2 linked regions of the Homo sapiens genome follow. The protein of the gene in region 1 interacts with the protein of each later gene in a biochemical or structural test. Each region holds a gene or a part of one and is shown in the gene's direction. Other genes may lie near its edges.

The links. Proteins that work in one complex are often made in the same cells at the same time.
Region 2: the proteins of USO1 (region 1) and GOSR2 form a complex in vitro, tested with the Homo sapiens proteins (one study listed by BioGRID).

The regions. Positions count from the first base shown.
Region 1 is NC_000004.12:75,719,822-75,727,596, forward strand, and holds the start of USO1 (general vesicular transport factor p115), read left to right. Parts: upstream 1-4,755; 5' UTR 4,756-4,998; coding exon 4,999-5,064; intron 5,065-7,775. UniProt on the Homo sapiens protein: General vesicular transport factor required for intercisternal transport in the Golgi stack; it is required for transcytotic fusion and/or subsequent binding of the vesicles to the target membrane.
Region 2 is NC_000017.11:46,918,832-46,926,163, forward strand, and holds the start of GOSR2 (Golgi SNAP receptor complex member 2), read left to right. Parts: upstream 1-4,328; 5' UTR 4,329-4,361; coding exon 4,362-4,390; exon of another isoform or gene 4,391-4,801; intron 4,802-7,332. UniProt on the Homo sapiens protein: Involved in transport of proteins from the cis/medial-Golgi to the trans-Golgi network.

The DNA.
Region 1 (7,775 bases):
CAGGTGATCCACCCGCCTCGGCCTCCCAAAGTGCTGGGATTACAAGGGTGAGTTACCGTGCCCGGCCTGGTCTCATTTCTTATCTCCTGAGAGAGGTAGCTGTCCAACATTTTAGCCTCTGAATCTTTTTGTTCAAGCGAAACAGGAAGTATAAACAAATGAAACCAATCAAATGGAGCAGGATGGGGGGGCCCAGAACCCTTTTTTTTTTTTGAGAAAGGGTCTCACTCCGTCACCTGGGCTGGAGTGCAGTGGCACAATCTTGACTCACTGCAACTTCAAGCAATTCTCATGCCTCAGCCTCCTGCGCATAGCTGGAATGATAGGCCACCACGCCCAGCTACCAAAACCTTCTTTCTTGGACTCTCCTCTCCCAAGGATTTCCTAAGGCTTTTAAAAATATTTTGAGGGCGCCGGGCGCGGTGGCTCATGCCTGTAATCCCAGCACTCTGGGAGGCCGAGGCGGGCGGATCACGAGATGAGGAGATCGAGACCACGGAGAAACTCCGTCTCTACCAAAAATACAAAAAATTAGCCGGGCGCGGTGGCGGGCGCCTGTAGTCCCAGCTACTCCAGAGGCTGAGGCAGGAGAATGGCATGAACCCAGGAGGCAGAGCTTGCAGTGAGCTGAGATCGCGTCACTGCACTCCAGCCTGGGCAACAGAGCGAGACTCCGTCTCAAAAAAAAAAAAAAAAATATTTTGAGGGCTAGGCGCGGTGGCTCACGCACTTTGAGAGGCTGAGGCAGGCGGATCATAAGGTCAGGAGATCGAGGCCATCCTAACTAACACGGTGAAAACCTGTCTCTACTAAAAATACAAAAAATTAGCCAGGCATGGTGGCATGTGCCTCTATTCCCAGCTACTTGGAAGGCTGAGGCAGGAGAATCGCTTGAACCCGGGAGGCCGAGGTTGCAGTGAGCCGAGATCGCGCCACTACACTCCAGCCTGGGTGACAGAGCGAGGCTCCATCTCAAAATAAATAAATAAATAAATAAATAAATAAATAAATAAATAAATAAAAATATTTTGAAGCCTGGGGCAGTTGGCTCACACCTGCAATCCCAGTATTTTGGGAGGCTGAGGCAGGAGAATAGCTTGAGGCCGGGAGTTTGACATCAGTCTGGGTAACATAGCAAGACTTCATCTCTACAAAAAAAAAAAAAAAAAAAAAATTAGCCAGGCATGATGGTGTGCACCTGTAGTCCTAGCTACTCAGGAGGCTGAGGCAGGAAGAGCTCTTGAACCCAGGAGTTCCAGGATGTATGTGCCACCACGCCGAGCTAATTTTGTATTTTTAGTAGACAACGGGGTTTCTCCATGTTGGTCAGGCTGGTCTGGAACTCCCAACTTCAGGTGATCCGTCCACCTCAGCCTCCCAAAGTGCTGGGATTACAGGCGTGAGCCACCTCGCCCAGCCTCAACTAGTCTTTTTTTTTTTTTTTTGGGACAGGGTCTCACTCCATCCTCCCAGCTGGAATGCAGTGGCACAATCATGGCTCAATGCAGCCTTGATCTCCCAGGCTCCAGCGATCCTCCCACACCCTCCCAAGTAAGTGGGACTACTGGCTGGGAATACAGGCGCATGCCACCATGCTCAGCTAATATTTTATTTTTTGTAGAGACAGGGTTTTGCCACATTGCCCAGGCTGGTGTTGAACTCCTGAGCTTAAATGATCCTCCCACCTTGGCCTCCCAAAGTGCTGGGATTATAGCCATGAGCTACGTCTTTAAAAACCTATATACGATACTGAAGGGGCTTATAACCTACCAAAATAATAAATAAATAAAAACCTATATATGATAGATTTCAAATACAAATGATCATTTATATTTATCCTCCCAAGCAGGCATAGACAACATTCCACCTTACTACCACCCCAACTAAAAAACAATCTTATGCAATTATATTTCGTTGTTTTTGCGAGTTTTCCACTAGAAAGTTAAGTGGGCCACTGAAAAAAGCAATTTGAAAAAATGAATTTCAAACCAATGAATTTTGTTCGTTGATCTATTGTCAGGTTTGGTTTAGAAAAAGATCACTCTTAATTTTGATTATATGTATTTTAATGATTCATAGGACTCTTATCCTGAATGCTTAGATTTATGAAAGCCAGAAGTATTAACAGTGCAAGTCAGGCCGTCACAATTTGTTCAAGTTTTCTCTTCCTTTATTAACTCAGGTAGTTCCTGAGCATCTACCATATTAAAGGAATTATACTAGATGATTAAAGGATGCAAACAGGAATACAACACAGTCCCTGACTTTTCTCCCTCTACAAAATCAGTAGAAGTGGATTAATATGTAACTCTTCCTCTGAAATAAGGAGTCTATTTCATGGTTGTTCTGTAGTGACAATGCCTCGGGGATCCCACCTTCATCACCTTTGCACCCAACTGTCCATCACTCCTGTGCAGGGGATGCTGCTGGGGAAGAAAACAGGTCAAATGCAGGGAAAATTCATAGTAAGCTGTTACTACTACACTCACGAAAGTATAGTAACCTACTTTACTCACTGAAGTACAGTAACCTACTGTACCCACCAAAGTTTAAAACAAAACAGGACATTTGACAAGGCTGGTGCCTTTAAACAACTTTGCTAAAATGTCAAGGCACTCTTTTTAATTATTAAATAAGAGGAGTAATAGACATTTGTGGCCCACTCCGTCTATGAGCCTCATTCCTGATGATGGGGTAGAGTGAGTTTCAGGGACAAGGTGAAGTGAGGTTCAGGGAGGGGTGAGGCTTAGGGGCTTAAGTGAAGTTCTTTGCATGCATTTCTTAGTAACAAAAATGCTGAGTAATTTACTGGTTACTTTTTTTAGGCTGCAACAAAATGCTCCCATGGAAAATGTCTACGGTAAAATGTCAAGTGTATAGCTTTAAAGCAGAGGACAATGCTTAGCGCACAGTATTTTTGGCAGTATGACCCCACCATTCTCCAAGTTGCCCAGGCTTAAAATGTTGGCACTAGGAAACACATAGCTTATGATGTCTTCCCTACAATTTCACTTTACAGATTAAAAAAAGGGAACCTCCTCTTAGTATAATATTCATATATTCTTTCAATAATTTATTCATTTATCCATCAATATCACCTTTTATGAGACAGTGGTAAGCAACAGAGATATAAAATGAATAACATAGTCCTGCCCTTAACAGTTTGGTTTAGCAAGCATTTATTCAATGTACACCATATACAGTATCAATAACTGCAAAGTGCTAACATATAGATGTGTACCTACATTTTAGGGAAAGCTTTCAAGAATGATGTCAGAGTTGAGCCTTAAGGAATTAGCAGGAGTTTGCTTGATGAAGAGAAAGGAAGGGAAGGGCATATCCAGGTCTGAGAAAAATGCCCAGAGTATGTGGGGGAGGCAGGAGCTGAAAAAGTAGGCAGGAGCTAAATCATAACAGGCCTGTATGACAAACTAAGGAGTTTGCACTTTATTCTGGACAGAATGGGGAACAACTGGAGGATTTTAAGAGGAATGACATGAACAGATGTTTTGTTGTTGTTAGTCTCACCCAAGGATGGACTGGAGATTGGACTGGAAGGAAGCCAGGGCTGAATGCAGACAAACTAATTAGGAGGCTGTTGCTGTCATCTCAATGAGAAATGATGAGAAGAACATAATCTATGTCACAGGCACAGAGGATGGAGAGCAGAACACCTATTTGAGAAATATTCTATAAATAGAAATGATAGGACATGACTATTGATTGGACATGTGTGGGTGGAAAGCCAGAGTCTAAGATTCTTCCCAGCTTCCTCTGTCTAGCTTAGGCAATTATTTGGACAGTGGTACTACTGAGCACGGCACGCACACAGTAGAAGCAGCATATTGACTTTTTTTCTTTAAGGGAGGCAGGGAAAGATGACGAGTTCAATTTTAAATGCTGAATCTGAGACCTGTGGGGAATCCAAGGGGAGAGGTGCATGAGTCAGTTAGCTAACTAGACCTGTGCTTTTTAGCCTCAAGAAATTTACAAGACTATTCCAGAAGCATGTGTACTGACAACCTCACTGCCAAAGGAACAGGCATACCAATTAGAGAAAATGACAATTTTTCATGTTAAAAAAAAAAAAACTGAAAACACAGGGGTTGAGAGTTAATAACGAAACATTATGTTACTCGCCAAACTGACACAGCAGAACAATGTATTTCTCTAGTAAGCTAAATGTAGGGTTTGATGGGTTTCCTCCTGACGACACTTGAAAATAGAGGTGTACCTGGTGTTTAGATCTAGGAATTCCTTTCAGCAGGTTTGAAGAGCAAGAGCTGAGAAATGCGCCCTCCAGTGGCAGTGGAATGAGGGGTGTCTAGTAACCCTTTTTACCACCAAACAAAGCCCTGTAAAGAAATGCAATTTACCGGGATCAGAAAGCCACAATGCTGGTACCAGTAAACCGTCAAACCAAGCGAACCCTCTCAGGCGCCAGGAAGCCTTACCTGTCACGTTGGCCAAAGGAAAATTTCACTTTCGACTCAACAAAATAAGACCTCAGATTTGATAGCTTGCAGTAAGTCCCGCTTGGCGACGATTAAACACCCTGCAAGTCGAAACGCGTAGTCTAATCAAATCCTCTCCAGCCTGCAGGGCCGGGCTTCCACCACGTGGGTGGCTGCGGCCAGCAGGATCAATCCGCGAAGGGTGGGGGTAGGAGGCGTGCCCCTGCGGTGGGAGGCGGGGTCTGCGCAGTGGGTGGGGCTTCGGCGGAACCTAGCTAAGAGGTTCCTCTCGCCTCCGCTCCCCTTTTGCCTTCAACCTTCGAGCCGCCACGTAATGCCACGTCCCCGCGCATGCGCATCTTGGCCGCTGCTGGCGGCTGTTTCCGGGCTTAGAGGGCTGGAGTGGCCGCCGAGTTGGAGGCGGTGGTGGCAGCAGTAGGAGTGTGTAGAGTGCGGGATTGGGGCCCAGGCCCTGCGGAGGGCGGGGGAAGTTGTCTTCTTTTTTTTCCGGAGGGGCCGGTAAACCTGGTGGCTGAACGGCAAGATGAATTTCCTCCGCGGGGTAATGGGGGGTCAGAGTGCCGGACCCCAGCACACAGAAGCCGAGACGGTGAGAGGAGCAGCGGGTCTGGGACTTGGGAAGGGGTCCGGGCAGGGACGGGGACGGAGCACTCGGAGACCCGAAGGTCACCTCCAGCGTCCCACCATGGAGGGGGCATCCACATGCCGCCTCCCCCTTTGCCCTCCTTCCGCTCCTGAAATCCCAGAGTTATTCAATCACGCCCCCAGCTCAGTCCCCATTGCTGCCGTTCGGCCGGACTGACGGCGGCCGCGCCCCGCAGCTCTGTAGGCCCTGAAGCTCGGGCTAGGAGAGTGGTCCGCAGGTGGTACCGCACGGGAAGGGACGGATGCGCGGCCGAGCTGGCCCGAACTGCCTCCCACGCCCCTCGGGGCCGTGGGCCCCTCCCTCTTTCTCTTTCGCTCGTCTGCACTGGCCGAGAGGAGCCTGAAGTCCTGCTCCCTCCCTCGCAGTCTGAAACTGGGGCGTTGGGGAAAACTGCGAGAAGGTTTAAAACCCAGCTGTTGGTGAGAGCATTTGGCTAAGAATAAAACGATATTCTTTGAAGGACAAATCCACCTGCTCCTGTCCCATCAACTGGAAGAGCGGTCGTTCTGCCTGGTGTTATTTGTTCAGATCCGGCTTTTCGGGCTCACCCAAATATATATCATTTGGCAAATGCTACCTTGAACGTAGTAGGGATCTTAAGCGCTCAAACTGCTTTGGGGACACGTCCACCGCTTTCTGCCTGAACTCCTAATGACATGATTTGCGGCGTTATTTAAAAAAAAAAAAAAATGGTTAGCCGCTGAAAACATTATTTAATAGTTGCTTAGATTCTAGGTTTAGAATACACTTATTTTGAAGTTTGGTTAGTGTTTAATGGAATCGAGGGTGTATGCCTTTTTGAAATAAACTTTTTATTTGAGAAGAATTTTAGATCTACATAAAAGAGACTAAGTATAACACTTTAATGGCTAACTTTGTTAATGGGATCCTGAGGGATAATATAGTAGCTTTCATTTGTCAGGCTCTTACCTTGTGCTAGGTTCTGTGCTGAGCTCTTTATATTCCACATTATGCTTTAATCGTTAACTACCCTGCAAGATAGGTGAGAGTATTCTCACCTTAAAAGTCAAAAAATGAGACTGAGAGGGGTGAAGTAGGCCGGACGCGGTGGCTCACGCCTCTAATCCCAGCACTTTGGGAGGCTGAGGCCGGCGGATCACCTGAGGTCGGGAGTTCGAGACCAGCCTGACCAACATGGAGAAACCCCGTCTCTACTAAAAATACAGAATTAGCCGGCCGTGGTGGCACATGCCTGTAATCCCAGCCACTCGGAAGGCTGAGGCAGGAGAATCGCTTGAACTCGGGAGGCGGAGGTTACGGTGAGCAGAGATCGTGCCATTGCACTCTAGCCTGGGCAACAAGAGCGAAACTCTGTCTCAAAAAAAAAAAAAAAAAAAAGGGGTGAAGTAACTTGACCAATGTCACACTGCTAATAATAGAGCCAGGATTCAACCAAGAGGTACCTTACTTCAAAGCCTTCACTTTATTGCTCATGCCTGTATTTCAATACTTTTTGGGAACTTTATATAGTATTACTAAAATTAACTGCAGCTAGTCGCAGTGACACAGGCCTATAATCCCAGCTAAGGGGATGCTAAGCCAGGAGGATCGCTTGAGCCCAGGAGTTTGAGACTAGCCTGGGCAGCATGAAGAGACTCCATCTCAAAAAAAAAAAAAATAACTGCGCAGGTCTGGTTAGAATTGTTTAAAGCATAAGATGAAAGCCGGTAAATCTGTTTCTTTCATTTGAAAATCACTTTTCTGTCTCTCACTGTAACACACGCACACATTTGGCTTCACTCATCCATTCCCACTTGGCAACAAGGCAGCCTGAGCTACCCTACTAGAAGATCATGTTCTGTCTAGATTACCAGAGTCATACCATAATCACAGCCCACCACTTTTTTGTCTGATATTTGTGTTTGTGGCACCAGGTTATGAAATATGGTTTATTACAGCTTGCTTTGTGGAGTTAGACTTTGATTTGAATCCTGGCTTTCCACCCCTGATTGGATTGGATATGTAAGAGATAGCTAATACCCTCTAAGTAAAATGAGGAAAATGCCTGCTTTTTAGGATGTAATGAAGATTAAGTGAAATAAGTAGAAAGAGCCTGGCACTTAGTAGATGTATAATGAGAGGTAATTTTTACTATGTGTGGGTTGAACGAAGAATACCCTTTCCTGTTTTTGTTATTATTGGCCTTGTCACAGTGACTTCTGTAGAAAAGATGGAATAGAATTCACAGTGTATAGGATTTTAAAGCTAGAAAGTCCCAGATAGAGCCTCTTCATTTTATAGTCACAGAGCACTAAAGTAGCTTGCACAAGGTTGAAGAGTTGGAGCTAGAACATTTTGATCTTGCCACTGTGGATGGAACAACATAGTTTTTATATCACAATTTCAAAGTGAAACTTGAGTATCACTTGCGTATGTTGTATATATAAACTGAAAGGGTCCTTTCTTGTTCTTGCCTAACTTTGAGTATGTACATTTAAAATTGGAAAAGTAATTTGTCTTCTATTTTTTCTTTTTAATCACCTCCACAATAAAGCAATTTGCCTTCTGAAAATTATTATTCTGAGGTACAGTATGAATAAAATTTGTTTCACTATTTCGTTCCACCAGGAAGTACAACAGGTAAAAGGGGTCATGGATTACTAATTTAGAAGTATTTATAGAGCATCAGTGGA
Region 2 (7,332 bases), on another chromosome or scaffold:
ACTGCTTGTAGTTTCCCCTGCACATCATATATCTTTGCTTTTGTGTACGCTGTTTCCTCTTCCTGGGATGTTTTCCCCACTGGCCTTATCTTCCAAGATTCAGTTTAGGTATCATCTCCTCTTTGAATCTCTCTTGAGTCACCAAACTGGGCTAAGTGTTCCCTCCTTGTCATCCCACAGTTCCCAATTACTGTACCCCACACTCACCACATAGGATTCTAATTATCTGTATAGATGTTTACCTCCCAGTATATTAAAGAGCTTCTATGGTAAGGTGGTGTCTTACTCATCTTTGTATATCAGCCCTTGCATTGTGCTTGACACACAGTTATCAGCTCAATGAATCTATAATGTAGGATGATTTATGGAAGGAGACCAATGGACTAAGTCAAGTGGACTCTGGTGAGCCTAGAAAACGTTCTAGTAAAATGAAGGAGAGGCTGGAGGGTAAGTCATGCCAAGAGAATATCAGCAGTATATATCAATTATCCAAGTGGTTTAGCCATACAAGAAAAAGAAAAAATGGGATATAAGTTAAAAATGCAGTAAGCTGGAGAGTGGCATTTTCTTCTATTTAGAGGAAGGCCTAAATACGTATAAAGACTTAAGAGACTGAGAGGCAGAAGGGAGATCTTCTGGACTTCAATTTCCTTATCTGCCTTATCCACCTCCCAGGGATGCCATGAGACCCAAAGGAAAACAAGACATAGGCATGAAAATTATTTGAGAAATTTTTTACATTACTATCCTCTGATAGATTTTTCTGATAGCTTCCAACTACCCGCAGAATAAAAATCTATAAAGAAAAACCCAATCTGACATTTAAGATTTCCTGGCCAGGCGCAGTGGCTCACGCCTGTAACCCCAGCACTTTGGAGGCCAAAGCGGGTGGATCATCTGAGGTCGGGAGTTCGAGACCAGCCTGACCAACATGGTGAAACCCTGTCTCTACTAAAAATACAAAAATTAGCTGGGCGTGGTGGTGGGTGCCTGTAATCCTAGCTACTCGGGAGGCTGAGGCAGGAGAATTGCTTGAACCCAGGAGGCGGAGGTTGCAGTGAACCAAGATTGCACCATTGCATTCCAGCCTGAGCAACAGAGCGAGACTCCATCTCAAAAAAAAGAAAGAAAGAAAGAAAAAAAAATTCCTATGATCTCGTTCTAACCTTTCTTCGACTACTATTATTGCCCCAAACACCCTGAATCCAGCCAGAGGAGATTCATGTTCTTTCCTTCTGTTTGCCTTTGCTCAAGCTATTCCCTCAGCCTCAAATGCCCTCCTCTTCATCTCTACCAGGCAGACACAATAAACATTTTCAGAGTGGTTAGTATATACAAGACACTGTTAAAATTCTATTGATTCTTGAAGGTCTTATTCATATGCTATTTTGTCCATGAACCGTTCTTGCCCTTCCCACGGAAATGGTACTTTGTATCAATTGTAGCATGTATTCTACTTAATAATGTAGCTTGAGGGTATGATTAGTTCTCCCAACAGACCATGAGAGATATGGGAGGTTTTAGGGCTGTGTCTTGCTTGTGTTCCTATCTCCAGTATCTGTGCATGGTACATTGTAGATGCTCAATTATAGAAAAAGTGAAAAAAATAATTTTAGGAAAAGAATGTACATGGGTGGACAGTCTCTTGGGACACAAAACTGGGTGGGATCCAGGATCCAGGAAAAGAGAAGTATCAACTTGTCCAAGAAAAGAATGTCTCCTGCCTTGGGAGGAATAGTAGATAAGCTTGGAGGATGGAAACGGGATAGCCTATGTGGAGACAGAGAAGTGTCCAAACCCAGTCCCAGCTCAAATGCCACCCCTTCATTAAGTCTCTCCTAAATCTCCTCCTAGAGACGACCCCCAGCTCAGCTCAATCTCTTTGGATTTTCTACCTTCTAGAATGTTTGTCTTGATAAATAAAATTCATAGAAAGCCATTGGTTTGGACTGAGCTCCTGCACTAGGCGCAACAGGCCAAACCAAAATAGAGTCACTCATGCTAAAGTTCCAAGCCACAAAGCCAAAATTAAGCTGCTCATCTGACCTTAGGAGAAATCAGAAGAGAGGGAAAATAGCCATATCCCCATGATAAAGGAAGTCCCTTCTGCCTTAACCAATACAAGTAAAATAACTTTGAAACTTGTTCTTTGTTTCTGCTTTTTTTTTTCAGCCCTTTTCTGTCTATAAAGATAATCTCCTCTGCTCAGCTCATCAGAATACTCATTCTATTTTATAGAATAAGGTGTTGCCTGGTGCTAGAATCGCAAATAGCCAGTTAAGATCTGTAACTGTGTTGTATTAAAGGAGAGAAGGTTAGCACTCCCTTTGACAAGGATGGAAGAGGCCCTTGGGCCTGACAACACGCATACGGTTAAGGCATTACCACCTACTTCGTGGGATCTAACCATCGTTTTTGAAATGGTGCTGGGAAAACTAGCTAGCCATATGTAGAAAGCTGAAACTGGATCCCTTCCTTACACCTTATACAAAAATCAATTCAAGATGGATTAAAGACTTACATGTTAGACCTAAAACCATAAAAACCCTAGAAGAAAACCTAGGCAATACCATTCAGGACATAGGCATGGGCAAGGACTTCATGTCTAAAACACCAAAAGCAATGACAACGAAAGCCAAAATTGACAAATGGGATCTAATTAAACTAAAGAGCTTCTGCACAGCAAAAGAAACTACCATCAGAGTGAACAGGCAACCTACAGAATGGGAGAAAATTTTTGCAATCTACTCATCTGACAAAGAGCTAATATCCAGAATCTACAATGAACTCAAACAAATTTACAAGAAAAAAACAAACAACCCCATCAACAAGTGGGCGAAGGATATGAACAGACACTTCTCAAAAGAAGACATTTATGCAGCCAACAGACACATGAAAAAATGCTCATCATCACTGGCCATCAGAGAAATGCAAATCAAAACCACAATGAGATACCATCTCACACCAGTTAGAATGGCGACCATTAAAAAGTCAGGAAACAACAGCTGCTGGAGAGGATGTGGAGAAATAAGAACACTTTTACACTGTTGGTGGGACTGTTAACTGGTTCAACCATTGTGGAAGACAGTGTGGAGATTTCTCAGGGATCTAGAACTAGAAATACCATTTGACCCAGCCATCCCATTACTGGGTATATACCCAAAGGATTATAAATCATGCTGCTATAAAGACACATTTACATGTATGTTTATTGCAGCACTATTCACAATAGCAAAGACCTGGAACCAACCCAAATGTCCAACAATGACAGACTGGATTAAGAAAATGTGGCATATATACACCATGGAATACTATGCAGCCATAAAAAATGATGAGTTCATGTCCTTTGTAGGGACACGGATGAAGCTGGAAACCAACATTCTCAGCAAACTATCGCAAGGACAAAAAAACAAACATTACATGTTCTCACTCATAGGTGGGAACTGAACGATGAGAACACTTGGACACAGGAAGGGGGACATCACACTTCGGGGCCTGTTGTGGGGTGGGGAGAGGGGGAAGGGATAGCATTAGGAGATATACCTAATGTAAATGACGAGTTAATGGGTGCAGCACACCAACATGGCACATGTATACATATGTAACAACCCTGCACGTTGTGCACATGTACCCTAGAACTTAAAGTATAATAATAAAAAATAATAAAATAAAGAAAAAAAATCTATAACTACATTTCTTGTAATTTTGTCTTTTGAGAGTATACATATCTTATTTCCTTTCCCAGACCAGAACCTCTTTGAGGGCAGGAGGAACCCGGTTTTCCCTACTTTACACATGACACATAATAACCACTCATTCAATGTAGGTTTACTGGATGGATAAATAGGAATGGGGGGTAGATAGGCGGGAGAGTGAGTAGACAAATGCGAAACAGGAAAAGCTTGCGCCAGGAAAAACAGTGAAGAGCGAAATCTCCAGACCCCCGATTAAATGGTTTAAAGTGAAGCCAAGCAAGAACCTCCAGTCCTCTCTGCGGCAGAGAACAGCAGATGATAGCGGCTCGCCTTCAACTTTGCTCTGAGGACCTCTCGTTAGTATCCCGCGATTGTCCTTCCTAACGCCTGACTGAATCCTGAGGCTAGCCTTCAGCGAACATGTACACCGCCTTGCCCTTCACGTGAAGCCGAGCCTGTGACTACACTTATCCTTCCGTCGCCGGCCTCATTTCTCCTTCCCCTTCTCCGATCTCGCAACCACTGCTAGTAAGGCGCGCGTGCGGGCAGCCCTGGCCGGCAGGGGAGGGAGGGTCCTGCGACCGGAAGCCGGAAACCGGAAGGGGGGCTGTGAGGACGTGTTCCGAGGAAGCCAGAGCCGGAGCCGTGGCCTGCGGGGCCGGCGACATGGATCCCCTGTTCCAGCAAACGCACAAGTGAGGGCCGGTCGGGGAGCGGGCAGGGGCTAGACGAGGCGAGGCCAGGTGAGCCTGGCTTCTGGGGCTGAGGCCTCGGACGTCAGCCAGGGTAGAGGCCGAGTTTTTCCGCCAGGGCACTGCTGGGGATGCCTCCGAAGTGCTTAATCCTTGGCGGGACTCCCAGGTCAGCCACAGACAGTGGGTTCAGGCTGGGGCCTGGAGACGTGGGGCAGATGACTCCTGGGGTCTGCAAGTTCGTGACTACCTGCTGGGTAGACTGGGTGACGGGAAACTGGCACCTGCAGGTTATAAAACTTTGTCCAGCACTTGTCAACTCGGTGCTCCTGGTTGGTAGACCTCGAGAGGAGACACGGAGTAGGAGACACGGCCCCTGGCCGTAGGAGTGTACTGTTTAATTGGAGAGTCAGGGCACGTACGGGAAAGTATTTGTATTCTTATTCGATTTATACTAAAGACCACATTTTTATGGTACAAAGAAATTGCTGTCCACGTAGCATTCACTATTATTACTTGTTAATCGTATCTGGTTACAGGTTATCGCTAAGAAAATCAAATTGTAATTTAGTTTCTCATAACTTAAATTCCTTGGTAGTGTCCTTTATTCGCATCGTCCTGCACTTTCGGAATTGCTGAGATACGTAGTTGAGTATTAATGGGGCCATACTTACCCTATTTTTGGGGGCGGGGGGCAGAATTATGATTTTTACCCTGTTTTGGAGGGACGGAATTTTATGATTTTTATTTTTTATTGTAAAATATACACAACATAAGATTTACTGTTTTAACAATTTTTAAGTGTACAATTCAGTGACATTGAGTACATTCACAACTTACATCACTACGATCCATTTCCAGAACTTTTTCATCATCCCAGTGTGCCTGTTAATCAGTAGCACTTCATTTCTTCCTTCCAGAACACCTAGTAACCTCTGTTTTACTTCTCTCTATGAGTTTACCTATTCTAGATACTTAATATAAGTGGAGTCATACAGAATTTGTCCTTTTGTATCTGGCTTATTTCACTTAATGTTTTCAGGGTTCATCTATATTGTAGCCTGTTACCAGAATTTCATTCTGTTTTATGACGGAATAATATTCCGTTTTATGTGTCTACCACATTTTGTTATCCATTCATCTGTTGATGGACACTTGAGTTGTTTCCACCATTGGGCTGTTGAGAATAATACTGCTATGAACTCTGGTGTAGAAGTATCTGTTTTAGTTTCTCTTCTCAATTTTTTGAGGTATATACCTATCCTATTGAGAACTTTCAAACTTATGCTGTAGTTTTGTTGATTAAAACACTTAAAATCACACTCCCAAGGCCTGGAAATGAAATGCCCTGAAGCATGAGGAATAAGAGGGTGATGATCCTCTTTCTCTTTCATTTTCTAAGTTTATGGGTTTCTTTTATTTTGGCGATGAGGTGTTTCATTTGGACAGGCGAAAATACAGAACCTACTTTGTAATGACAGAATTTTCTTTTACACTGGGGAGCCCTATTCTCACATAAACGTTATAGGAAGGGACTTAAAACTAGTCTGTGAGTAATTTAGAGAAAGAATGAAACGAAATTATGTTCATGTTACTAAGAAAGGGCCTATCTTTCACAATAGCAGGGCACAATGGGCATAGTAGTGCCTTGAAGTTAATCTGTTATGTATGGTCTTATCTAGTTAATTTAGTTAAAGGATGTTGCCAAGAAGGCCATGACCCATTTTATATTCAAGAATAACTTTATTTAGAGAGTCTTAGACTACCTGTTTTCAGTGCAGCTAATCACAGAGAAAACTGCATGGCTCAGAAGAGGAATTCTAAATGGTACCCCAAACAAGGTGTGTGGAGTGTAGATGCTCTGTAGGCCTCCAACAATGCACCCTTGGACTCTAGCAGCTTGCCAGTTTTTTCTATTAAGGGCCAGATAGTAAATATTTTAGGCTCTGTGGGCTATACGGTCTCTGTAGTTACTACTCTGCTGTTATATTGGGAAAACAGCCATAGACAATATGTAAACTAATTGATGTACCTGTGTTCCAGTACAATTTTATTTATCAAAACAAGCAGTGGGCCAGCTTTGCCCCACAACTATTAGGCCCTCTGCTACCCCGACACTCATTAATTCATTGAATATTTATTGAGCACCTACTATGTGCTGTGCACCATTCTCAGTGCTGGCAGCACAGCCCTGCCCTCGAGGAGTTTACCTTCTTTTATGCTGCAGTATCTTGTCTATCTTTCCTCTCCAGTGCTGAACCAGGAGTGGGAGTTCTGGTTCTAGACCTCCTTACTTTATTTTTCCTCATCTGTAGAATGATATTATAATTTGGGCTGGTTAAACTGTAAGGCTCCTTTCAGTTCCATGATAACAGAACTGATGACTGAATGACTTTCACAAGAAACACGTGGAGTCCAGTGAGCACCAGCAATGAACTTTCGCAACTGCAGAAATTAGTGATTGTAGCTGAGTTGACACAACAGTAGCTGAACTTATTAATTTTACTGGAACTTTGAACCCAGTTTGTGATTATCTCTTGCCGTGTCACTGAATACATTGAGTACATTGGAATTAGATTGACATATTAAAGTTACTTGAAAACTCCTGAACCTACCTGAACAATGAATGAATGAAAATAATGAATGAATGAAAACAATAAACATTTTACACTTAAATGTTTAATTTAGATGAACTTTATAGAGGAGCTAATAGCCAGGCTTCTATTTTTGAGATCCCAATGGTTGTAAAGGTGACCACATTTGTCCCCTATGTAGTCCAAGATCAGTCTCCTGTCCTGGACCTTATCGTATGTCCAGGACACAAGAAGCACTACATTTAACAAGCTCCCTAGGTGGTTTTGATGAGCAGGTAGGCTTAAGAACTGTTACCTTATCTCAAGACCATTTTTTTTCCTGAACAGCGGAGCTTAAGAACTATTACCTTA